Homo sapiens: one gene and its partners. The protein of the gene in region 1 interacts with the protein of each later gene in a biochemical or structural test. Each region holds a gene or a part of one and is shown on either strand. Other genes may lie near its edges. The genes, in order: RIGI, WRNIP1, THAP12 and TRIM40.

What was found.
Region 2: the proteins of RIGI (region 1) and WRNIP1 form a complex in vitro, tested with the Homo sapiens proteins (one study listed by BioGRID).
Region 3: the proteins of RIGI (region 1) and THAP12 form a complex in vitro, tested with the Homo sapiens proteins (one study listed by BioGRID).
Region 4: of the proteins of RIGI (region 1) and TRIM40, one has a biochemical effect on the other in vitro, tested with the Homo sapiens proteins (one study listed by BioGRID).

The regions. Positions count from the first base shown.
Region 1 is NC_000009.12:32,488,172-32,495,207, forward strand, and holds part of RIGI (antiviral innate immune response receptor RIG-I), read right to left. Parts: intron 5,772-7,036; coding exon 5,590-5,771; intron 4,381-5,589; exon of another isoform or gene 4,368-4,380; coding exon 4,220-4,367; intron 3,250-4,219; coding exon 3,130-3,249; intron 1,281-3,129; coding exon 1,173-1,280; intron 717-1,172; coding exon 563-716; intron 33-562; coding exon 1-32.
Region 2 is NC_000006.12:2,775,379-2,782,414, reverse strand, and holds part of WRNIP1 (ATPase WRNIP1), read right to left. Parts: intron 3,153-7,036; coding exon 2,923-3,152; intron 1-2,922. UniProt on the Homo sapiens protein: Functions as a modulator of initiation or reinitiation events during DNA polymerase delta-mediated DNA synthesis. In the presence of ATP, stimulation of DNA polymerase delta-mediated DNA synthesis is decreased.
Region 3 is NC_000011.10:76,378,102-76,385,685, reverse strand, and holds the start of THAP12 (52 kDa repressor of the inhibitor of the protein kinase), read left to right. Parts: upstream 1-4,553; 5' UTR 4,554-4,849; coding exon 4,850-4,938; intron 4,939-7,584. Other genes in the region: protein GVQW3, read right to left, coding at 3,476-3,857. UniProt on the Homo sapiens protein: Upstream regulator of interferon-induced serine/threonine protein kinase R (PKR). May block the PKR-inhibitory function of DNAJC3, resulting in restoration of kinase activity and suppression of cell growth.
Region 4 is NC_000006.12:30,146,110-30,149,234, reverse strand, and holds the end of TRIM40 (E3 ubiquitin ligase TRIM40), read right to left. Parts: intron 2,251-3,125; coding exon 2,026-2,250; intron 1,716-2,025; coding exon 1,693-1,715; intron 1,511-1,692; coding exon 1,423-1,510; 3' UTR 507-1,422; downstream 1-506. UniProt on the Homo sapiens protein: E3 ubiquitin-protein ligase that plays a role in the limitation of the innate immune response. Mediates inhibition of the RLR signaling pathway by ubiquitinating RIGI and IFIH1 receptors, leading to their proteasomal degradation.

The DNA of each region.
Region 1 (7,036 bases):
CTGTTGCTCCAGAAATGCCTGTAACTCTATACCTGGGAAATGACAGAAATTCCATATTACTAACCACGATGTGGATAAGGAACCACAAAGATGAAATGCTAGATCAGAACATCAACTGATTAAATTCTCCCTGAGTCCAAAAGAAGAATAGCTGTAGGCAAGTCCTTAGCACAGAGCCTGACACATAGTAAGAGATCAATAAATCCAAGCTAGTTGTAATTTATAGTACTATATATTATTTTAAGTCACTAAGAGAGAAAAGAGTACGTAAAAGAATAATATCAAATAAATTATAAAATCACTAAAGAAGTTAAATGTGCCACGTAAACATCAAATTTATTCCTGAAGTCATTTACTCCCCATAGAAGGGCAAACCAGGGGAGTTTAAGTTTTCTGGTACATCTAACAAAAAAGACTTGAATCCATGAAGGGATAACATCTGGATTATAAAAAAGCTGAATCTAATATAAATTTTTTTAAATCATTTGTCAAAAACAAAACAGAAAACACATCAATTACATGAAGCTGGAGAAAAAGAAGTTGAAGCAACTATTATACCTACCCATGTCTTTCAAAGTATTTTGAGAATACAGATTTCTGCTGTTCATACACTGGGATCTGATTCGCAAAAAAGACAACTTTCCCCTTTTGTCCTTGTGGGAATTTTTTAAGATGATGTTCACATATAAGCAGTGAAACAAAGGTTTTTCCACAACCTTTTAACATGTAAGGAAAAAAGAAAACATGTAACTCATATATTAGATATTTCTCTGGAAAGGTGTTTATTTTTGGCTCTTCTAATACCACTGAGCTGACTAATTAATTGATAATTTAAATATGTTAATGATTACAGAATTTACACTATGACTAAAAAATATCAAGCTGCTCCCTAAGTAGCATGCCAACAGCCAGGACCCAAAAGCAAGCTAAAAGAGGACACTTTTCTTTACCTTCTCATGAAAGGTAAAGAAAATACATTAAATACATTAATGTACATAATTAATTAATTACATAATCCCATAAAAAACATTAGGATTATATTAGGACAGTTTTCTCAAAAGACACATGGAACAAGGAAAAAACTGAAACTTGCCCATTCTGTCCCAGTATTCAACAAAAGAAAAAAAAGGAAGCAAACAGAAAAACTATGTAAGTAATGGCAATAGGCTTACCTGTAGGAGCACATATTATTGTGTTTTTTCCTTTCATAGCAGGCAAAGCAAGCTCTAATTGGTAATTTCTTGGTTTAAATGGGCTGTACAAGTTTGTATCAGACACTTCTGGAATACAAAAGGAGCAAAATTACCAAACAGTTCCTGCTCTGAGGAATCACGGCAATAGCTACAGTCTAATGTCCACAAATTCTGACTCCAGCAAGAAGATCCTCATTGGAGAAAGTTTAGAATCCTTTCTCTTGGTAACCATTCTAGCTTTTCCACTAATTTGAAGTACAGAATTCTCTCAGTGACAAAGTATTGATGGCAAGAAAGAAAAAAAAAAAAACATGAATTATTTTTTATACAATCATGGAAGGCTAACAGAAACCAAAGAAAGAATGGCCCCATTCAGGGTAAGACAAGCTGTCTACTAAAGGCAATGCTGTATGTGAAAAAAGCAACAAATCCTCCCACGATCTTTGAAGAAAACCAAACTGTTAACATTGGATTCTCAAAGCAATTTCTTATTAAGGAGCAATAATGCTTTGTCGTTCTTCAAGTTCTCAAATGATATTTTCTCTCAACATAACCAGAAGTTTTAAAAAATAATCAAAGGCTTTATCTCAATAACAGGTAGGCATATAAATCATTAAGAGCTAGCAAAGACTTTGGAAATTATCTACTGAGTCTAACCTACCCATTTTAGAGAAAGGGAGAATTTCTAAAAGGTTAAGTGAATTAAACTCACACGAAAGACATGTAAAGGCCAGGTGCAGTGGCTCATGCCTGTAATCCCAGCACTTGGGAGGCTGAGGTGGATGGATCACTTGAGGTCAGGAGTTCAAGAACAGCCTGGCCGACATGCTGAAATCCCCACCTCTCCAAAAAAAATACAAAAATTAACCAGATGTGGTGGCACATGCCTGTGGTCCCAGCTACTTGGGAGACTGAGGCAGGAGAATCACTTGAACCCAAGGTTGCAGTGAGCTGAGATTGTGCCACTGCACGCCAGCCTGAGCAACAGAGCGAGAGACTCAGTCTCAAAAAACAATAACAACAACAACAACAAAAGGCATGCAAGAATCTTCACGTGTCAGAAAATTTAAAGCAACTCATATTCATGTATCTGTTTTTTTTTTCCAAGGGGTAACAGATTTTATTCTGAAATGACCAAAAAAACAAAACAAAACAAAAAAACTTGTAACATTCAGTTGCAGACGTAATCTGCACATTTTCTCTTTATGATGTTATTCTAATATCATTTTTCTTCTACCACCACTATTAATCCCAATTTCCTTCCTGATACTCTTTTATACATAACTTTTTATTATGGCATATTATGCAACTTGCCGGTCTCATAAAACCATCAAGAAAATATGCTTTGAGAAGCATAAGGGGGCCTCACAGGGCCACAGCTAACTTATACAGTGCCTTTGTGTAAATGACAAAAGGGAGCTCCTCTTGGAGGACACAGCCCCTCAGTGCACTGTGTTGCAAACGACACAGGCTGGATCTCAGCCCCTACTCAACCTCTCAGCCAGGCGCATTTGGGTAGCACACTAACTTCATCAACTTGCAGGGCAGCCCAGGGATCCTAAAAGGAAATTGAGCAAGTGACTCAGAAATAGAAGTAGTATTTATTTAGAAAGCAAGGTTGATTTGGGAATTCATAGACATTGGGTTTTGGTGAAGACTCTATTTGCATTTCCAATATAGACACGCCCATACTTTCTTAGTGGTAGAAGAAGAAAAAAAAGATAGTAAAAGAAGAAAAAAAGATAGTGGAAGAACTAGGAGAGAATGGCATTCTAAATATAGAAAAAGTATCTATTGTAACATAAATTCTCTTTACTTTCTTAATTTTCCTTACAAAACTTTTCACAAGGCTGTGACTTTGGGTACTGCAAAACAAGCCCCCACACCAAATACCAGAAGAGCACCATTATGGAAAAGGACAAACAATACCAGGTACCTGAAGGTGGACATGAATTCTCACTAAGATTCTGGCATTCTGGATCTTCTTGGTAGAAAATCTGTATGTCAGAAGTTTCCATCTTATCCTCAAGATCTTCTGTTTCAACATCTTTTATACCTTTTTAAGACCAAAAAAGTCTTAGAATCTTCACATAATCTGATTATAGTTTTGATGGTGAAAGCTCCACAAAATGGTCATAACACTAAGATTTTTAACTTCTATTAAAATTTCTCACAACCACTCCCCTTCACCTTTTAAAACAGTTGAAAGAATCATTTTGAGTTTAAAATCTCAATTTGGCGTTGACCTCCAATGTAATTTAGAGCTATATTACTCAAAGTGTGGAACGTATTGCCCTACTGAATCAGAATCCACATTTTAACAAGACCTCGGAGGGATTCGTATGCACCAAAAAAAAAAAAAAAAAAAAAGAGCATGATTTAGCAGACATTCATGTCTTCCTTTTCTGACTGACTCTTGACCCATTAAATCAGATGTGTATTTATACAGTTTCTGAAACAACTTATGATCTAAAGAAGCCTAGGAAAGCTAAGACCAGATATTCAGATGTTTACCAAACTCAGCCTTTGAAACAATGCTGAGTGTCAGCTTCAAGAAACCAAATGATAGTTCAGACACTTAATGACAACCAATTCTTTCACCCGTCGGATTCAGTTCCAGATGGCTTCCAGTAAGAGAACCAGGCAATGTCTGTCAAGAAATCAACTCTGAAAAGGGGGTAAGTCCTGGAGTTTGAACCTTTAACTCTAGAATTCTCAAGCTATTTCTCTGATAATCTAAACTTAGACTGAGAGTTCGGATTTTGCCTTCCTCAAATCCTTTGGGCCAGATGGGCTAATTCTGGATGAGAGTGGTTTTCCCCAGTCCATTTTTAGGGGTTATATGCAACCAAACTAATTTTGTAGGCAAGTAACTGCCTCCCTCCCAGAATCCAGCTTCCTGCTGGTCTCGCGTTAGAGATGTAGCTCTGGCTATCTGAGGGGAAAAACGCCTCTGATGGGATGTAAAAGACCGGTTGGAATGAGCGAGTCCTAAGTAGAGCTGTGAGGAGGGTACAGTGTCTTACCTTTCTCTACAATCCACAGTTCACTGAACTTGTTCCTTTCTTTCTCCAAAGCAAGTTTCAAAGTTTTGGGCCAGTTTTCCTTGTCTGATCTGAGAAGGCATTCCACCAATTTCTCTGCACCTGCCATCATCCCCTTAGTAGAGCAAATCTAAGCAAGGTAACTGTAGTTTATTGATCAATTATCTCAAAAGTTTTCCCTTTATCAATTTTTACTGAAGAAATGTCAGTCATGTACTATCTGATTTAAAGCCATTGTACATTACAGCTCAGTGGGTCATATCCATGACAATTTTTGCCCCATCCAACACAGTCTTTTAAGATACTTTTTCCTTCATCTTTGTCCTTTACACATGATGTCACTATGTCAAGCCAAGCCTTCTCATCACCTCTAAGTTCTTATACCTATCCTCATCAGCAATATTAAGAAAATAATCATTTGACAACCATTCCCAATATGGGTATATTGGCATATAGCAATATTTGGAAACAGATAACAAAATATTAACAAATTTTTCTTCAGGGTTGAGGAATTTGTATGACTTTTACTAACCATAATAACTAAAGTTTATTGTACACATACTCTGTGCAAGACATACATGAGTACTTTACATATATTATCTCATTACCCTTATGAAAATACCATATTATAAGGTAACATTATTATTTCCATTTTACACACAAGGAAACAGATAGATATTCAGAGAAACTAAGTAACTTGCCCAAGATCATACCGCTAGTGGTTGAGCTATGATTCTAACAAAATTCATCTGTGTCCAGAGTCTAAACACTTAACTGCTAGAGTCTGTAGCCCTTTCTCATTTGCTCAACTGTTCAATTTAAATTTGCATAAAATACTATTCACAGACTGTGGTGATTTTAACTGAAAATAGGGCAAACTTCAAAAAAACTTTGTGACATAAAAATTACTCAGTTCACATTAAAAGTACTATTCTGGCTGAGCACGGTGGCTCACGCCTGTAATCCCAGCACTTTGAGAGGCCAAGGCGGGTGGATCACGAGGTCAGGAGTTCGAGACCAGCCTGACCAACATGGTGAAACCCCATCTCTACTAAAAATACAAAAATTAGCTGGGCATGGTAGCACGCACCTGTAATCCCAGCTACTCGAGAGGCGAGGCAGGAGAATTGGTTGAACTCAGGAGGCGGAGGTTGCAATGAGCCGAGATCACACCATTGCACTCCAGCCTGGGCGACAGAGCGAGACTCCGTCTCAAAAAAAAAAAAGTACTATTCTATGAGTACTTTTGTGGGTTTCAATGATCTTTCTCAGGTCTAAAACAGTATAGAAAACAGAAGACCTTCCCATGTTATAATTATTTCCCCCAATTTTAGTATTTTATATTAACTTACCTGTAGAATTTCTTCACATTCCTGATTAATTAAACATTCAGACAGATCAGAAATGATATCGGTTGGGATAATTCTGGTTTTAAATTCTGGTTGTAAACGTTTTAAAAGTAATCTATACTCCTCCAACTTTTCAATTTTTTTGAAATCCCAACTTTCAATGGCTTCATAAAGTCCAGAATAACCTGAAAAAAAAGAAAAAAAATGTGGACTTTTATGAAACCAACTGAAAAATACTTTGAGATTAGTATCATAGAAATCATGTTTGAATGTATGGTGGTAGAATTCAAAAAATATCTGTAAATTACCCCCAATTGTCATTGATTTTTCAAAAAGAAAACAGTATTCATTTTAGTCAGCCAACACTTTAGGTCTTCTAGCAATATTTATTATCTATTGGGAAAAAGTACTAAGGAAAACTTTGAAGTCTTACATTTTGATCTTAGTATAAAATCTTTCTTCCAAAGTGACTCATAGACTTCACCTACAATCCCTGATTTGTCTTTAAAAAGTCAGAGTCAACAGGTTTATTAAGTATCTTCTCAGTGGAAAGCAGTAAAGAAGGCAAAAAGAAATATAAACCTTAATTCCTGCCCACAAGGAACTTTCCTTCTAATTTTTCTAAGATAATATTAAGTAAATGGGAAATTTACTTAATATTATTCTACATGCCTTTAAAAGATATTTATTTAAAAATCATATTTAGAAAGTTCAGAGAAAAATACTAATGGCCAAGAAACATACATAAGATGTTCAACCTCATTCTTTTTTAAAATTGTAGTAAAAAACAGATAAAACATTTACCATCTTAACTATTTTTAAATGTACAGTTCAGTCGTGTTAAATTCATTTTGTTATAAAAAAAAAATCCAGACCTTTTTCACCTTGCAAATCTAAAACTCTATGAAACAACTATTCCTTTTTCTCTCCTCACCCCTGCTCCTGGTAACCACCACTCTTTCTGTTTCTATGAATCTGACTACTTTAGATAATCTATATAGGTGGCAAAATACAATATTTGTCTTTTTGTGACTGGCTTATTTCACTCAGCACAGCACCCTCAATGTATGTCCATTTTGCAGGATGTGCCAGGATTTCCTTTTTTTTTTAAGGCTGAATAATATTCCATTGTATGTGTATATCACATTTTGTTGATCCATTCATCACTGATGGACATTTGAGTTGCTTCTACCTTGTAAGCTATCACGAATAATGCTACTATCAACATGGATGTGCAAATATCTCATCAATACCTTGCTTTCAATTCTTTTGGAAATACACCAGAAGCAGAATTGCTGGATCATATGGTGATATATATTTTCAATTTTTTGAGGGACTGCCATACTGTTTTCCATGGCTGTTAACACCATTTTACAATCCTACCAATCAGGCACAGGGTTGCAGTTTCTCCACATCCTCACCTATATGCATTATTTTCTGTTTTTATTTT
Region 2 (7,036 bases), on another chromosome or scaffold:
TGCTGGCCTCCCACAGGGGAAAGACCTGCAGGACCCACGGCTCAGCCTGAGTGATTCTGGTTTCTGAGAGCCAGGGCAGATGGATGGGTCAGCCCAGCTACTGGATTTCTGAGAACAAACTGAGTGTCTCCTGTGCAGGGCTCCCCTGGTGAAGTCAGAGTGCTATGGACACTGGCCGAGAGGGTGTCCTGGATGACATCTGCATGGTTCTGGCCCACTCCCTCACCCTGCTGGCCCAGGCACTCAGGCTACGCTCTGCTCCTCTGCAGGGTGGAGGAAGGCGGGGAAGAGGGTAGCAGGTAACAGGCCTGGCTAAACTCACGGGCATGGGGGCTGGAAGAAACTACCCACACCACTTTATGTCAAATTTAAACTCCCCCTACACAGGTTAGTCATCTTTTCCCACTTTGTCAATGCCAGGGGCAATACCACCAGTATAATGGACAAGAGCACAGGCTCTGGGACCAAACAGCCTGGGCTGGACCCCCAAGCTCATGGGCCATGGGCAAGTTCCTGATCCTCACTGTGCCTCAGGTTTCTCATCTGTAAAATGGGAAAAACGAGACCACTTACCTCACAGGGCTGTATTAAATAACACACGCCTGGCACAGAGCAGGCACTGTAAAAAGATTCTTTTGCATCAGTGATAGATACTAGTATTATTCTATGCTACCTTCCATGTTTGCTTTTATTACACACTGCTTTATAACCTGAAATCTGACGACTTCTATAGAACCCCGATGTCAATGCATGGCAGAGAGTTTGCTCTCATTTAGAAATTCCTTCACTCTGATGCAGAAACATCACTGGATCCTACTAGTGGGTAACTATGAACTAGGTGGCATATACAAAAATAATCACAACTCTGGGGGTGGGTCTTTGTCTCACTGGAGTTATAAAAAGGCCCAAGAGTATAAGCTAACAGGTTTCCAGGGCAATGCTTCCACTATCCCTATTTATAGAGCAAAGCCTGTAAAAGCAGCTTTCTCCAAGATCTGAATGATATTTATGTGTCTGCGGATCCACTGTGGGGCAGACATGTTGCACTGGGGTGGGGTGTGTAAACACACTCATACTGGGAAGATGTATAGGATGTGGGGTTCTTAAGGCGCTGGCACTAGGCAGCGGCACTAGGCAGCCTCCACCACCCCCCAGCTCCAAGCTATAGACAAGGTGATCCCCACTGTGCAGAGCTCTGCAACGTGGAGCTCAGGAAGTGGGATTCCTAGGACTGAACCCCTCCAAGATCCGCTCTGTATGTGCATGGACGGGTGACCCCTCTCAGGAGCATGATGTAATGGGTGAGATCAGTAACAGCATGGCAAGGCTGGTGTGGAGGCAAATGCGGACGGGGGGAAGGACAGTCTTGGGAACCAGTAAGACCTGGATTTACGGGTCAGTTTCACCACTTGCTTTGTTATCTTAAAATGGGGGTAATATTAATAGCTATCTCCATAAAGCAATTTTGAGAATTTAAAAAATGAATACACCTATAAAATACTCAATGGCTGAGTGTTAGTGAATGCCATGTTATATGGATCTCAAGTGACAGTCTGATAAAATGTCAAAGAACAGTCCTAGTCGTTCCAATCAAAACAAGGCAAATCCTTTGGGACACCTACAAGAAGAGAGAGAGAGACCGCTGCTGCTGCACTTCAGAAACAATGGCGATCCCGGCATGGTGAGATTTTTTTAATGTCTTAAAATCTTTTTTCTTGTTCATATCTACATTTTTTCTATTTGACCAAAAGTCAAGCAGGGCTCTACACACCTAGAATGTGTTGCTTTTCAGACTTTGCAAGCATTCACGTCATGCTCCAGAGCACTAGGGAGAGCCAGCCATCTGAGCAGGCCCCGCTGAGGCACATTCACGTCACAATGTAGACAGGATTATTTATTCAACTTGCCAGTGTGTCCTTAGCACTAATGAACACCCCTGAGCTACCATCAGCTGAGGCACGCTAAAGCCAAAAAGCTTTGGTCAGCCCCCCTAGGTCATGCAGCGAGTGTGCTCACCCACGAAGAGGCAGCGCTTGGAACCAAAGTCATTCTTAAGCCCCTCCACCCCTTCTCTAACCAGTAAGGACTCTCCATTGTCACGTGGCACAGCCTACGTGAGATCAGGAACATTCAATTATCAGCCTCCTTTTCTGGCAGAGCTTTGAAAAGTGTGGAAATTATATTCCACAGTTACTGCAACATGATTCCATCCAAAGTCCCACAAATGCTCAAGCAGCAGAAGTTTGCTAATCTACAGTATGTTATATTCATCTCCCACTTCTTTTATAAAAAGATGCAAATGTGCTGTGCTAATGACATTTAATATTGCTAAGTCACAGATTTAATAAGAGCTGGTATCAAATCTGCTATCTGTAAATGCAGTTCTACAAAAACAGATAAGTGCACACAGCAAAATTAAATTTTTGAAAAAGCTACTACATAAAATAAAAACTTCAAGATCCATGACTATTTTTTAGTATAGACTCTAGAAATAAAGCATTTTAATTCTCAATTAAAACTAATAAGTCATTATGACAAAAGTCCTCTTTTTATTTACTGCCGTTGTAAATGATCACAAAACATATTCATTGTCAAGTGAATGCACAGGCTTTCAAAGGTGATTGTATTCTGCAAGGTGGGGAATAGCCAACTACCTTCTAAGGTGAATGTGCAGCCTGCCATTTCCAACCCCAAAACTCCTCTAGATTCTCAACAGGGCAGCTTCTGCTTCATGCCTCTCTTCGGAAAGGTCAGCCCTGTGTAGAAGGCTTAATACCAACATGCAGATCCACCTGAGAATCACTGGAATGCTCTGGACCCAGCTGGAATGCTTCCGGAACCCAGTCAGGCTTCCGGAAATGAGAATGTGTGCACACACTTCTTTCCGTATGGTTTCACTCTTTCCACAGGTGAATTACTTACCTGCCCGGTCATATAAAATGTGGGATCGCTGTAGGCCCTCCTTCACGTCATTCTCTGTGATCAGAACTCTACTGGGAGAATAGGATTGCCCACTCTTCTTACAGAACATCTTCCTAGAGCTTAACCTAGCCAGCACCGCCAGCTGCAGTCCGTTCAACCCAGCTCGGGCGTCACCGTCACTGAGGTAAGCCAGGGTGTCTACTGCTTTATCCTCTATGAACATGGCGGGCCTGAAACACAAGCAGGGTTAGTTACGGTCACACTCAGGCTGCATACTTCTTGTTCTGCACATGTCTTAGAAACTCATACTTCTCAGCAAGGACACTGAAGAGTTCAAGGCCTTTGCCTCTTATTCTCACCTTTGTCAATGTGCTTAAGCATCATCAAGACTACGAACTGACTGGGGCTCCTAAGTCACCAGGTTATCGCCCTGTATCTTATGAGTGTCGAGGGTATCTCACTGCATAGGTTCATACATCTAAGTCTGTGTGAAACAGACACTGACTGGCCTGGAAAGTCACTGTTGACAGGTGGTCTCTCTGGTTCTACCCTGCACAACAGTGAAAACTTTATTAGAAATGCTAGCACCTCATTACCGTGTATGGAAAACATGTTCCAAATGCAGCCTACATCCGATGAGACAGATGTGCTTAGACCACTTTCCACACAGGGGAGAGTCAGCATTATATCTGAATATTAGCTCTGAAGGGCTCCAGATCATGCAGTTCAATTCCTTCATTTTAAAAACAACAAATTGGGTCCCTAGTTACTCTGAGCACAGCAGGTCCTAGAAGCAGGTCTCAGGATTCTCTTGGCCTGGGGAATCTTGGGATGCTGCAGTAGGTCATCTCATAGTGGACACTAATCATGCAAAATCCGCACAGGGTAGCAGAGAGGTCATTAGCCTGGGAAGCGACGAGAAGACTGCTGGTACATAGCCATGAGACCCTGGGTAAGCCACCTAACCTCTCTCTGAACATCAGGACTAAAACTTACAGTCACATTTCTAAATTTGGACCCTCATAAATAAGATCTAACTATGATCAGAAGGCTGACTCAGTAAAATTTTCTATCCCTAGTTGAGTTAAACAAGACATCTAACACATTTCATAACTTAGTGGGGTCTTATTCCTGGCTGAGCTGCTAGCTGCACATTTGTGAAGCAAAAAAATAAAATTTTTCAGTTACAGTTCACCCATGTCATCAACATTCAGCTGAGAACATCTACAGTAAATAATAAGCCCATTAGGACTGTCCGAATCAGCTACCTGGAAAACAATGTACAGGCACCAACGGGGCTGGGCCGGGGAGGGGTGGCAGTTTCCGAAGGGGACCCAGCTTGCCTGCTGGATCAATGCAGAACTCCTCAGCATACACCCACTCACTGACACTACTCTGCTCACTGAGTAACCCAAATAACACCAATCTGCATTTCATTCACGGAAGGATTTGTTCCCAATGCCTTAAAGATGCCTCATCTCACCCCCATATTTACCAAAGTTGATTTCCAGTTATTCCTTGTGGGTCTCTCACCACACCTAAGACAACTGGCCAGCCCCAGCTTTACAACAAATGACTCTCTCCTCACTCATGCCAACTGCCTGGGCCCCAGAGCCAGTGGTGCAGCCTGGAGACCCATCTTCCTCTCTCCTGATGGTAGCATTCTCTCAGCAGACCTCACCAGAACAACAAAAAAACAAACACCGAGGCCATGTCACTGGCACTCTATAAAGCCTGGGGATCACTGCTCAACCAGAAATTAGTTAGCAAGTCTTCTGGAAGATGATTTAGAAGATAATGATGGACAGAACATATACTAAAGAAAATGTATGGGGAAGGACCAGCATCACAGGGGTGTAGCAGTACGTGACATGCCTGAGAGGGAAGGGTGCACTCTCAGCCCCTTACTGCACTCAACCTGTGTGGGAAGACAGGTAGGGAGAACAGAAACTGCTTGGGCATCTCATTTCTGCCTCAGAACTAGTAAAAACAATGGATTCTCTCTCCTTGGAAAGCTGCCTAGCAACAAAAAGCCTTCAGGACAATTGAGGGAAGAAAAAGGAGTCAAAGCAGGAGCCCCATTGGATCCTAACGGACTGAACTAGCCTATATCCTGCACCATGGGTTGGATTGTGTGTTGATTACATTACATTCATCATCCCTACTATGCGGAGCACCTCAAGGAGAGGAATATTTTATTCTTTGTATTCCCAGACCTGGTAGATGATAGGCATCCAATATTTGCAAAATGAATGGACTAACTTCAGTTTTATCATAATCTCAGAGTGAAACCTTTACTTCTTATAAATTATATGGAAAGTATAGAGAAAACAAAAAGAATCCATATTTCCAGCACTGAGAGATAAAAATGTACTTGATATTTCCAGCAGAATGAAAGCTACTGTGCCAAGTGCTGACTTTACGATCCACTCACCCATGCAACCATCAACCTTACAGCTAACCTAAAACAAAAACTGGGACCATATTTTACATAGTTTTACATCCTTAACCATTAAATAATTGTTTGAAAAACAAGCTACTCAGACCTGTCAACATTTACTTTAAAAAAATTTACATTAAATTTTAAAAATAGACAAAGGGAGAAAATTCACCTTCTGCTAGACTACCTTGACGTTAGTATTTTGGTATGTATCCCTTCTCCATGAATTTGTCTTTTGTATGTATTTAGGGGCATGGCATGCTCTTTGGACAGTGACGAGATGGGCAGCCTTATATACCATGGTATTTACTAGTATAAACTGCCTCATTTCCATTAGTCCTCATATACAGACAGGGAGGCAGGCCTTATTAATTAGGACAGAAGCCAGCTAGCCGTCTACTCCATTGATTTATCAACAGTATGCTGTGAATAAGTCTTTAGCAATGATTATGTATTTTATGTGGTTGGAAAATAAGGTCTTCCTTTGGCTTTTAAACTCCTGACCAAAGTACAAGTGGTTCCACACTTCTGGTTTGGAGTCATGGGGAATGGAGGTGCTGCCACAACGAAAGCTACCTGAGCTCGCGCCACTCCCTTCTTCTTCCTCCCCTTGGGTATAATCCACATTTTAAATTTCACCCCGTCCAAAAGAAGAAAGTATTTCGAGGCCCAGATCAATCTGTCGGCAACTCTGTCCAAGTAATACAGGACCTGCTGACAGCACTCACAATGATCACACAAGAAAATTACAAAATGGAGATTCACTGTGAAGACGACTGAGCAGGGAAAGGTTCCACTTAAACACCCAATATATCTTGAACTCCCATTTACTAAGTTCTGAAGAACGAAGTAAGATATACTAAAATACCCTGAGATCTTAGAATGGGAAGCCCATGAGAGAACTCATGCCAAGAATGATGAAGGGATAGTTGTATTGATATTGGCAAAATCCCTCAGCAAACTGCGGCACAAACTATTTTGAAAGAGTGTTCCCAGTCTAGAGAATTTACAATTATTTTTAAATTTAAGCATATATTAAAATTAAGCATATATTTATAAAGTGTTTTGCACTTAAAAATAACCTTCCAAAGGTAGAATACAATAAAAAGAGGTAAAATCTATTCTGGGGATAGACTGCCCAAAATGTCATAACATCCTACATGGAAATAAACAATAGGAAGTAAATTATGTTGTTATAATAAAACACTATTTATAATAAGGGAAAATTGGTTAAAATAAATGCATTGGAAAAGATTCTATTTCTAGTTAACAAAACCTAGAGATAGAAACAGACTTAAGAGAGCTTGGCTTCTCCAACTGATGAGAAGGGCTTTAATTTTAACAGAAGAATATAGGAAGCTCTCTTCTTTCCTCTTCCAGGTGCCTAAATCCTGAAGCTTTCTACACATTGGGTAATACTGGAATTTGGAGGATACTACTTAGACAGCTGGATATGTAAGTTGGAGAAGGAGTGCAGTAAGTAAAAATGTACCTGTTATTTCAAGGCAGAATGAAAGAATATGCATGGCTTGGTTAAACTCTCCCTCTCTAAATTACAAACCAAACCCCACAAATCTCTTCCACTAAGGAAAAGGAACATTTCATGGTCAGGGTGATAACTGCTGTGTAGAAGTTTCAACCAGGGATATGCATCAAGTTAGACACAAATACAGC
Region 3 (7,584 bases), on another chromosome or scaffold:
CAGCTGAAGCGGGGAGCTGAAAGAAGGATCCAAAAAATCAGAGAAGAGTTGTAAGTTAAGTGGAAAACCATGACCCAAAGGTCAATACAAGGATCAGCACACCAAAGTGACCAAAAGCAGCTACTGAAGATGTGACCCAGGACCAGAAAACAAAGCAACAAGGAAAGAGAGGAGTAAGAGCAAACTGTGAAGAATAAACTGAGAGGTGTCTGAAGATAGTCAAGGACAAGAGCCTGGGGTGTGACGGACACATAGCTGGATGTGTGAGACTACGGGACCAGGAGCTCAAGAGGCCTAGGCAGCAAGGTGCAGGCCAGGGCAAAACGTGCATCAGCAATAAAATAGATTTGGTGGGTGGACACATTAGGAGTACTCATATAAGAACTTTCCTATTTGGAGATGCCCAGATCATGCTCTACCCTTGGGTTTAGAAATTCTGAGCAGCCAAATGTGAATGGTTTGCTCTGGATAAGTCCTTTTCATTATAGCCAATTGGAACCATTTGAATTCACACTCCTAATTACCTGCTTCTGGTTGCTGTGTCTAAACCATGTCTGGACCAACATAGCTTCTGGTACTCTACACTCCACCATGGGTCTTGGTCCAGCATCACTGGCAGGGACATACCAGCCCTGTTCATAGGACTGGAATAAAATCCAGAAGTAAGTTGTCTCAGGACCTCTGTTTAATAACAGGTTAGAAACAACTCCTGTAGGTATGGTTGTGGGATCCTGGCCTGGGACCAGGAGCATATAAATCTGCAACAATTACCACTGGGTAGGCCTTAGCAAGGATTACTATGAGGTTCAGCAACAAAGCTGCAAGAACTAGTGGTGGGGACTTTGTTCCTAAAGTGCAGTGTCCCTGGTGCCAAGTGCTTGTGGGCAACCTAGAGCCGCATCTGATGTAGGAAGACTTCATTGTCCTGAAATGGAATGTCTAGAAACTGTTAAGGAGCTGGAGGTCTATAAGCTGTTGTTTGGTTTAAGAGTTTTCTTACACAGTATCTTCTCTTTGTGGGACAACGTCTAGCTTTCAAGGTGTCTCAAAACTAACAGGTGTTGACCCGGCGTGGTGGCTCACGCCTGTAATCCCAGCACTTTGGGACGCCGAGGTGGGTGGATCACCTGAGGTCAGAAGTTCAAGACCAGCCTGGCCAACATGGTGAAACCCCGCCTCTACTAAAAATACAAAAAATAGCCGGGTGTAGCAGCATGCACCTGTAATCCCAGCTACTCAGGAGGCTGAGTCAGGAGAAACACTTGAACCTGGGAGGCGGAGGTTGTAGTGAGCTGAGATCGTGCCACTGCACTCCAGCCTGGGCAGCAGAGCAAGACTCCATCTCAAAAAACAAAACAAAACAAAAACAGGTGTTAATGAGGAACTTGTAATTTTTGGAGGTGAGTAGAGAAAGTGAAAGAACAGCACTAAAAGTAACTGTGATGAATGAGTGTTGTGCCTCTACTATCAAGCAATATTGTTTAAGAGGAGCTGTTATATCTAAAAATCCTTGAGTAAAACAAAGACTGGCCAATTCTGTGAAATGCTATTACCAAACCCCTGCCCCCTGAATGTTTCCAGTCTATGTGGTATTACTTGGAACCCACTTGGGAAAAGTTCCATTCCATAAATCCTGGCAGAGGCAGGAAGAGAAGAGACAGAGTTTGAACTTGCAGAAACTGCTTGTCGGGGTCCAAATGGAAAATCAGATATCAAATTGGTTGTTACAAACCTATTCACAGACTCAGGGGAAGCAATTTAACAACAAGTGGCATAGAGTTGGAGGCTTAGGAGAGAAAGCAAATTATCCCAAATTGTTCATCTGCTGCAACACCATTATCTTCCTCTTTAAACTTTGTTATTTTAGCCAATAGTGTCATCATTTTCTAATTCCTTTTTTTTTTTTTTGGGACAGAGTCTAGCTCTGTCGCCAGGTTGGAGTACAGTGGCGCAATCTCCACTCACTGCAACCTCTGCCTTCCGGGTTCAACAGATTCTCCTGCCTCAGCCTCCTGAGTAGTTGGGACTACAGGTGTGCACCACCACGCCCAGCTAATTTTTGTATTTTTAGTAGAGACGGGGTTTCACCATGTTGGCCAGGATGGTCTCGATCTCTTGACCTTGTGATCCACCCACCTCAGTCTCCCAAAGTGCTGGGATTACAGGCGTGATTCACCACACCTGGCCAGTGTCATTTTCTACTGATGCAGGTTGGAAGCCTCATGCTGTTCCACCTGCCCCGGAAGCTTTCCCTAATTTCACAGCCCTGTCTCACCCATCCTCATGGATCCAGTTCAAGAACCATCTCATCCATGAAGCCCATCAGCCCTTGGAGATCTTGTTCATAACCTCCACATTGTCAATGCCCAGCAGTGTCCTAAAAACAGCAAGTTCTCAAAACTATAGGCATTAGTTACTAAAAACAGGCTGCTGTGTGGGAATCCGCACATAGGCAGCAGGCTCCCTTAATTCAGGGACTAGAGAGCCACCTGGTCTTCCTCCCCACACAACACAGCCTTGCCTGGGTCCCCGGGTTTATATTTTCTAGCACCAGATCCTCCTCTTCCAACAGGGGTGATACCCAAATGAGTGGAGGTCCAAAGCATAGGACTAGAATGAAACAAACCCAGCTCTTCTGTGAGGTGTAGGCCTGTGAGAAGATCAGTATTGGTGGCCAACCCCTGATTCCTAAGGGTGCCTACTGAGTCATCTGGGCCAGATCAGCCCCTAGGCCCAGCACTGTTCAGTAATACCAGCATGCTACTACCTTCTGTACCATACCTCAGGCCCTGACTGCAAAGCAGGCTGAAACTGTAAGCCTTCTTTTGGGGTCCTCCCAGAAAAGCATGCTTCCCTGGGCACAGAGATACAGATTCCAGGAGATCCTGTTCCTCTCTTCTCACTGGCATGATCCTCTGAGGCAGAAGGTTGAGAACAAAGGAACAGGACAGCCACAACAAGCTAAGGTCTGGGCAGAGAAGAAATCCAAACTTGTTGAGCAAAAGAAATCAAGAACAAGCAAATACCAGAAGGGAACAGCCAAAAGTTTTTCAAAGTTATGGAGAACAGCAAGGAAAATGGTCCAAGAGTCCAGCAAAGAGTAATGAGGAGGGCCATGGCACATAGGGAGGAGTGGTGAAGACTGAAAAATACGTGAGCAGCCAAAGAAGGTGCCTAACAGTGAGGCAGCATCCTAGTTCTGGTTCAGCTAACTCACATTCCTCTCACCATGGGGTGAACCAATTCTCAGCTACCCTGGGGGGAAGGCTTGTTGAAGATGACGCCTGCAGAAGCTGACTGGCAGAGTAGTGGACTCTGGGATGGGATACCGGCAGGGGCATTTCCCCACCAGCTTCACCCTGGAGATAACTCCATGTTTCAGAACCTGTTACCTTTTTCCTCAAACATGAGCTATTTTTCCTAGTTTCCTTTGAAAGATCGGACCGAAAGTCAAGTTTTCGTGGTTTAGGCTCACCCTTCAAAACACCCGAAATAACTTTTGCAGAAATCTTCCTCATGTTCAAGTTTTCTTTCAAAATGAGCCTAACAGTTTCTTTGTCTAAATTTAACTCTTCAGCCATCATCCTCACGGTTAACTGCCTGTTTGAACAAACCAAGTCCTTGACCTTCTGGATATTGTCATCTGTTCGGTGGGTGACTGGACGCCCACTTCGGGCATCATCTCGAACATCTTCCCGTCCTTCTTTAAACCTTTTGTGCCAGTCAAAAACTCTGGCCCTTGACATGACTTCATCCCCATAAGCTTCTTTTAAAAGATGGTGGGTCTCACTTGCAGACTTGTTCAATTTCACGCAAAATTTGATACTAATCCTTTGTTCTAAATAGCGGTCACTCATTCTGGCACTGAACAACACAGGAACGTTTAACAGGCCACGACTGTAAGGGAAAGACGGACAGATCAATCTTTATAGGGCTGCAGGTGTAATCATATCGCTCTTCTTGCTCTTCTAGAAGCCTCGCCGGGAAAGAGTAATTGCTTTTATGAATTTTTGTCCCTCAGCTTCCAGTCGAGGCTGGGGAGATCCGTTCTGGGAAGCCAACAGTCGCTGCAAAGCTGGGAAAAATTAAATCGCCTACAACCACGTCTGCATCAAACCAGTGCACGCACATCTGCCGAGAGTTTGCCAGTCACCAAGGTCGCTCCGATTCCGCGGCCCTTAAGGAGTATATGGCGAATTCTGCAAGAAAGGCCTAAGTGGTGGCAAATTAAGCAAGCAAGAAGAGATGCATCGGTGATGTAACGTGCAAGCTCGCCCTAGATCTGCAGAAACCCGCGCACGCCAAACCTACCGGAGCAGCCCAGGAACCGCCTGCTCTAGCGTCCCGGGAGACAGGCGCGCATGCGCAATTCTCTCTCCCCGCGGATTAGACTGTGCGCAGTCGCACTGCGGCGGCGCGCGCCAGGTCCCGCCTCCGCCTCGCCACACCCCGGCAGGCGCGCTTCCTTGCGCGTGCCCGCCTGCTGAGAAGGCGGAAAGGAGGGGCGGGGGAGGAAGGCTGAGGGAAGAGAGGGCACCCCCGGGCGTCAGGGTGCATTGTGGGAAGGAGGCGGCAGCGTCTCGGGCGGGCGGGAGGTGCACCAGCGGCGGCGGCGGCGGTAAATCCTCCCGGCCGCTCACAGCACTGTGGAGCCGCGTCCCCAGCCCGGCCTCGGACCGCGGCACCCCTCCTGGCCCTCGCGGCTTCTAGCCCGCCCGCCCCTCCCCCGCGCGTCGGCCCTGCCGAGCCGGCCGGCCGGCCTGGCTCCCCTCCCCGGCCCCGACGGGCGGGCGGACTGCCCTGAGGAGGCGGGGAGGGGAGGGCTGGGCCGGCCGGCGGGCGGGCGACGATGCCGAACTTCTGCGCTGCCCCCAACTGCACGCGGAAGAGCACGCAGTCCGACTTGGCCTTCTTCAGGTTCCCGCGGGACCCTGCCAGGTAAGCGGCGGGCGCAGAGCGGGCGGCCCGGGCCCACCTTCGCGGTGAGCGCTGCCAGCCGCCGGCCCCTGGCGGGCTCCCGGGCTGGCTGAGAGGGGCGCAGGAGGCGGGCGCAGCGCACTGCCGTCGACCCCAGCGTTGGACCGAGATGGGGAGCCGGCCCCGAGCCGTGGGCGGGCGGGCGTCCGGGGACCTCGGAGCACGTGCGCTGGTGGGGGCTCTGCGCGGAGGACACCACCCCAAACGCGAGGGAGCTGGGGCGGCGCGCGGACGCGGGATGCTGTGGGTTCTCGCCGTGGCTCACTTGCTGTGTGACCTCGGGGGAGTCGCTTTCCTCTCTGGGCGTTAGTTTCCTTAGCTGTCAAAAGAGAGCAGGACTCTATGGTTGTGGCCACTGGGGCCTTTCCCTCTCCTTGCCACCACCCCCGGGACAGTGTTTCTGTTTTGAGTCCCGCTACCTTCTTTCATCTCATCGCAACTGCTTTCTCCTTCGGACTTGTCATTGCACGGTTCAGGATTCATTTTCTGGCTGTCACCGTTACTCATTTTCTCGCTTGGGTATTGTAGGGATAACAGAGGGTGTACGCGTGAGGGCGTGGAAATTGGTATTGGAACCTCTTCCTTCGGATAACCCCCACACACTGACATATTTAGGGAATGATAGCATAGGGACTGTGTTTGAAAGGCTGAGATGTTTCATAGGCCTGTCTTGTTGGTTCATTCATTTAAAATCAATGCCTACTATGTGCCGAGCGCAAATGTTAGGTGCTGGGAGTTCATGGGTGAATAAGGGTGTCACTGCTTGCAGAAAGCTCTCAGTCCAGTAAGGGAACAGGTGCAGCAACGGGCGACTATAATTTATGTTATTTATTAATTAGTTCAATTAATTATTGAAGGTCTACTTGTGTTGGCATTGTTGTGAGCAGTGGGGGTTACAGATGAACAAATCGAAGTCCTTGCTTTCATGAAGATTACATTCTAATGGGGGGGGAATAAACAAGTAAAATACGTAGTGTGTCGGATGATGATAAATACTGTGGAGAAAAATAAACAAAGGTTAGAGGGTAGGGGAATAAGTAGTATCAAGGGACGCACAATTGCTATTTTAAATACAGTGATTAGAGAAGGCCTCACTAAGAAGGTGAATTTGAGCAAAGACCAGGTGAAGGGGCCAGCCATGGAGATACCTTGGGCAGCAGCATTCCAAAGAAGGCAAAGACAGGGCAACCAGGAGTCCAGGGAGAGGGACTGGGAGAGAGGTGAGATGAGACCAGAAAGGTGTGTGTATGGTAGGGGCAAATTCTTTAGGTAGGACCTTGTAGGTCTTGGAAGGCACTATGGTTTTTATTATGAGTGAAATAGGAAGTCATTGAAGGGTTTAGAGCAGAGACTTAAATTTTAACAGGATCAGTGGCTGCTCATTAGATTGTGGGGAGGCAAAGGTGAAAGCCGGAAGACCAGTTAAAAGGCTGTTGTAATAATCCAGATTAATAGAGGAGGAGATGGTAAATTTGAGATATGGTTTGAAGGTGAAGCCAACATCATTTGCTAATGGTTTGGAGGTAGATTGTAAAAGAAAAAGAGAACTTAAGGACGACTTCAAGATTTTAAAAATCTATGTTGGCCAGGTTGGTCTTGAACTCCTGGCTTCAAGCAGTCCTCCTGTGTCGGTCTCCCAAAGTGCTAGAACAGGCTCTGAGCCACCGCGCCCAGCCGACTTCAAGATTTTTAACGTGAGCATTTGCTGAGATAGGGAAGACTGGGAAGAGCAGGTTTGGTAGAGGAATACTAGAAGTTTGGGTTTGAGAGACCTGATAGACATTCAAGAATAGATGTCTAGGCCGGGCATGGTGGCTCACACCTGTAATCCCAGCACTTTGGGAGGCCTAAGCAGGCGGATCACTTGAGGTCAGGAGTTCGAGACCAGCCTGGCCAACATAGGGAAACCCTGTCTCTATTAAAAAATACAAAAATTAGCTGAGCCCAGTGGTGCGTGCCTGTCCAGCTACTCAGGAGGCCAAGACGTGAGAATCGCTTGAACCCAGGAGGCAGAGGTTGCAGTGAGCCGAGATCGTGCCACTGCACTCCAGTCAGGGTGACAGAACAAGACTCCGTCTCAAGAAAGAAAGAATAGATGAAAAAAAAAAAAGAATAGATGTCTTTCTTCATACCATATACAGAAATGAACTCCAAATGGCCTATACTTTTATTGAGATCAAAGGCCTAAATATAAGAGCTATGTCATTAAACTTTTAGGAAAAAAATACAGATAAATCTTCATGACTTTAGATTTGGCAGCACATTCTTGTTTGTTTTTTGTTTTTTTTGAGAGTCTCACTCTGTTGCCCAGGCTGCAGTGCAGTGGCACAGTCTCAGCTCACTGCAACCTCTGCCACCGATGTTCACAAACTATTCTACTCACTCAGCCTCCCAGGTAGCTGGGATTGCAGGCATCCGCCACCATGCCTGGCTAATTTTTGTATTTTTTTTTAGTCAAGACGGGGTTTCGCCATGTTGGCCAGGCTGGTCTCGAACTCCTGATCTCAGGTGATCTGCCCGCCTTGGCCTCCCAAAGTGCTGGGATTACAGGTGTAAGCCACCGTGCTTGGCTGGCACCACATTCTTAGATATGACACCAAAATACAT
Region 4 (3,125 bases), on another chromosome or scaffold:
CACTTATACATACATTTAAAATTTTACTGGACACCAGCTATGAGCCAGACACTGTTCTAGACATGAGGACACAGACAGAATATGATCCCTGCTCACCCAAAGAAGTGAGGCTTATACAAAAATGACTAATATACAATTGTATTCATTATCCATTACTCCACAAAAATTACCACAAATTTACTGCCTTATAACAACACATGGCCAGGCGCGGTGGCTCACACCTGTAATCCCAGCATTTTGGGAGGCCAAGGTGGGCTGATCACCTGAGGTCAGAAGTTCAAGGCCAGCCTGGCCAACATGGTTAAACCCTGTCTCTACTAAAAACACAAAAAATTAGCCGGGTGTGGTGGCGGGCGCCTATAATCCCTAGCTATTAGGGAGGCTGAGGCAGGAGAATTGCTTGAACCTAGGAGACAGAGGTTACAGTGAGCCGACATCACACCACCGCATTCCAGCCTGGGCAACAGAGTGAGACTCCATCTCAAAAACGAAAACAGAAAACAAAAAAACACACACACATTTATTGTCACACTGTTTCTGTGGGTGGGAAATTTTGGCACAGCTTCACTGGGTCCTCAGCTTAGGTACTCACAAGACTATAATCAAGGTGTTGGCTGGACTAGGTTCTTATCCGGCTCAGTTGGGGAAGAATCTGCTTCCAAGCTCACTCGGGTTGTTGGCAGAATTCAGGTTCTTGCAGCCACAAGACTGAGGGCCTCTGCTTGTTGTTGGCTGGAAGCTGCTCTTGGCTCCTAGGAGGGGCTCTAAAAGGGTGGGCCAGCAAGGAGGAGTTCTATACAATGCAACACAGTTGCCAGAGTGACACCCTATCACCTTTGCCTTATTCCATTCATTAGAAGCAAGTCACAGATCCCACTTACACTCAAGGGGAGGGGACCAAACAAGGGCATGAATTCCAAGAGGTGAGGATCATGAAGGGAGGCTGTCTTTGAGTCTGTCTTCCACAACAATAATAAATAAGTGCCAGGTGAGTGGTACAGACAACAAGTACTGCAGGAACTCAGCTGGGCTCCACATGTGAGGTGGTGTCACTGCTGATGAGCTCGGGCCATTCAGAGGCCTGGAGGATCCTATTTGAATGAGATTGTGAGAGATGGGCACTACCATCAGTTTACAGGCAAAATGGAGATTTCACAAATGCTCCTGGAGACCATGGGCCCCGACCTCCACAGTGGCAGCCCCAAGCATGAGCCTGTCCTGGAAGGAGGCTGGCTATCGTCCAAGAGTCAGAGGGTCAGGCATCAGGTGATGACTGTGGACATGAAGAAATGGTGACATGTTCAGGAGCTGGCAGGCCCGAAGATGCACTGGGTAGACCCAGTGGGGGCCTGGACAGGTTGGAGGAAGGAGAGAGAGGAGGCTGAGGTGAGCCTGAAGTGAGGTGTCCCAGGGATGAACAGGTCAGAGCTTCTGAGGGGGCTGAAGAAGCAATTCACTGACTCCTTTCTCCAACTGGGGATAAATAACCTCTAATTTCTGTGGAGCACTCCTAGAAACAAAGAAATCTTTCATAGATTAATATGTATTCATATATTCCATTGGCTCTTCCATTGGCCATGTAGCATCAAGATACAAAAGCTAACGGAGCAGTGGGTCTCCTTGACCTCTGTGCATGTCTGTGTTGTGTGGGTTTATATGCACATGTGGGAAAGAAGAAGGGACAGCTCGTACCTGTTCAGTAAGTCACCAGCATTCTAGGAGAGAGAAAAAGTGAGAATCATAATTGGTTCTCAGGTTCCTATCACCTCCAAATTCCTTTCCCAATTCACTCTTGGAGGCCACTCTGGGGTGCCACCTTGAGAACTGGGGGAACATAGCAACACCCCTCTTCTGTGCCCATTCTGCTGCAGCAGCACTCTGTAGCCTGGAACAAGCCACATCTACCACAAGTCACCACATATCACACAGGCCCCTCCCTCTTACACCTCCCAGAAGGGTGATGCAGATGGGCTGCCTCCTATCGGGGAGAATCCCAGCCCTTGGGGAAGGCCTCAGGGTATGCACCTTCAGTGTGTTGGTGTCTAATTCCTTGGCCGTCCTTTCCAGATCAATGACCAGGCTTCTGAGCTGTGTTACTGCCCTGGAGATGTCAAGGATTCTGGCCGCTTCTGCTGGCATGTGCTCCAGCTGGCCCAGCCACTGCTGAGGGAGGGCACCCAGCTGTTCCCTGGTTTGGTGCTGGCTCTCCGGCCCAGCCTCCAGCCTGTGGTTCCCGTGGTCTACCTGAAACTACAGGAAAGGGGCTCCCTAAGACTCAGTGTCAGGTGGCTCCCTCCTGGCCCTTCACAGTCTCTGAATGTCTGAGCAGGAATGCTGATTCCTCAGTCCTCTTGCCCTCATGGTGTTGCCTCTGTGTGTCACAGGTATAGCAGAAGCAGCTTTGATTCTCATAAAGGCAGGGACACCTCACCTTTCCACCTCACTCTCTGAATATCTACAGATGCCATGTGACCAAGAGGAATAGAAAGGTAGACTGTCAGAGACAGAAATGGAGGCCTATGGCGGCCGGGCACGGTGGCTCACACCTGTAATCCCAGCACTTTGGGAGGCCAAGGCGGGCGGATCACGAGGTCAGGAGATCGAGACCATCCTGGCTAACATGGTGAAACCCCATCTCTACTAAAATATAGAAAAAATTAGCTGGGCGTGGTGGCAAGTGCCTGTAGTCCCAGTACTCGGGAGGCTGAGGCAGGAGAATGGCGTGAACCCGGGAGGCGGAGCTTGCAGTGAGCGGAGTTCGTGCCACTGCACTCCAGCCTGGGCGACAGAGCAAGGCTCCATCTCAAAAAAAAAATAAAATAAAATAAAAAGAAACAGAGGCCTATGGCTTGTGTAGTAATTTTCAGTTGACGAGACACTGGTCTCCTTTGATCCCTACTGTGATCCAGGCAGAGCAGGACTGGTTCTCATTTAACATGTAAGTCACATAAAGATCAGAGGGCTTAACTTGCGTAGGTCACTCAACCAGCAAACTTTGACGCCAAGGCCAACACCCGGGTTTTCAGCCTCCACGACCATCTGCCCACATCAGGCTGTTCCAGGGACAGACAGATGTCCAGAATAGTTAAGTAAGGGCTCCTGAGAACACTCCAGGGAGTCCTTCC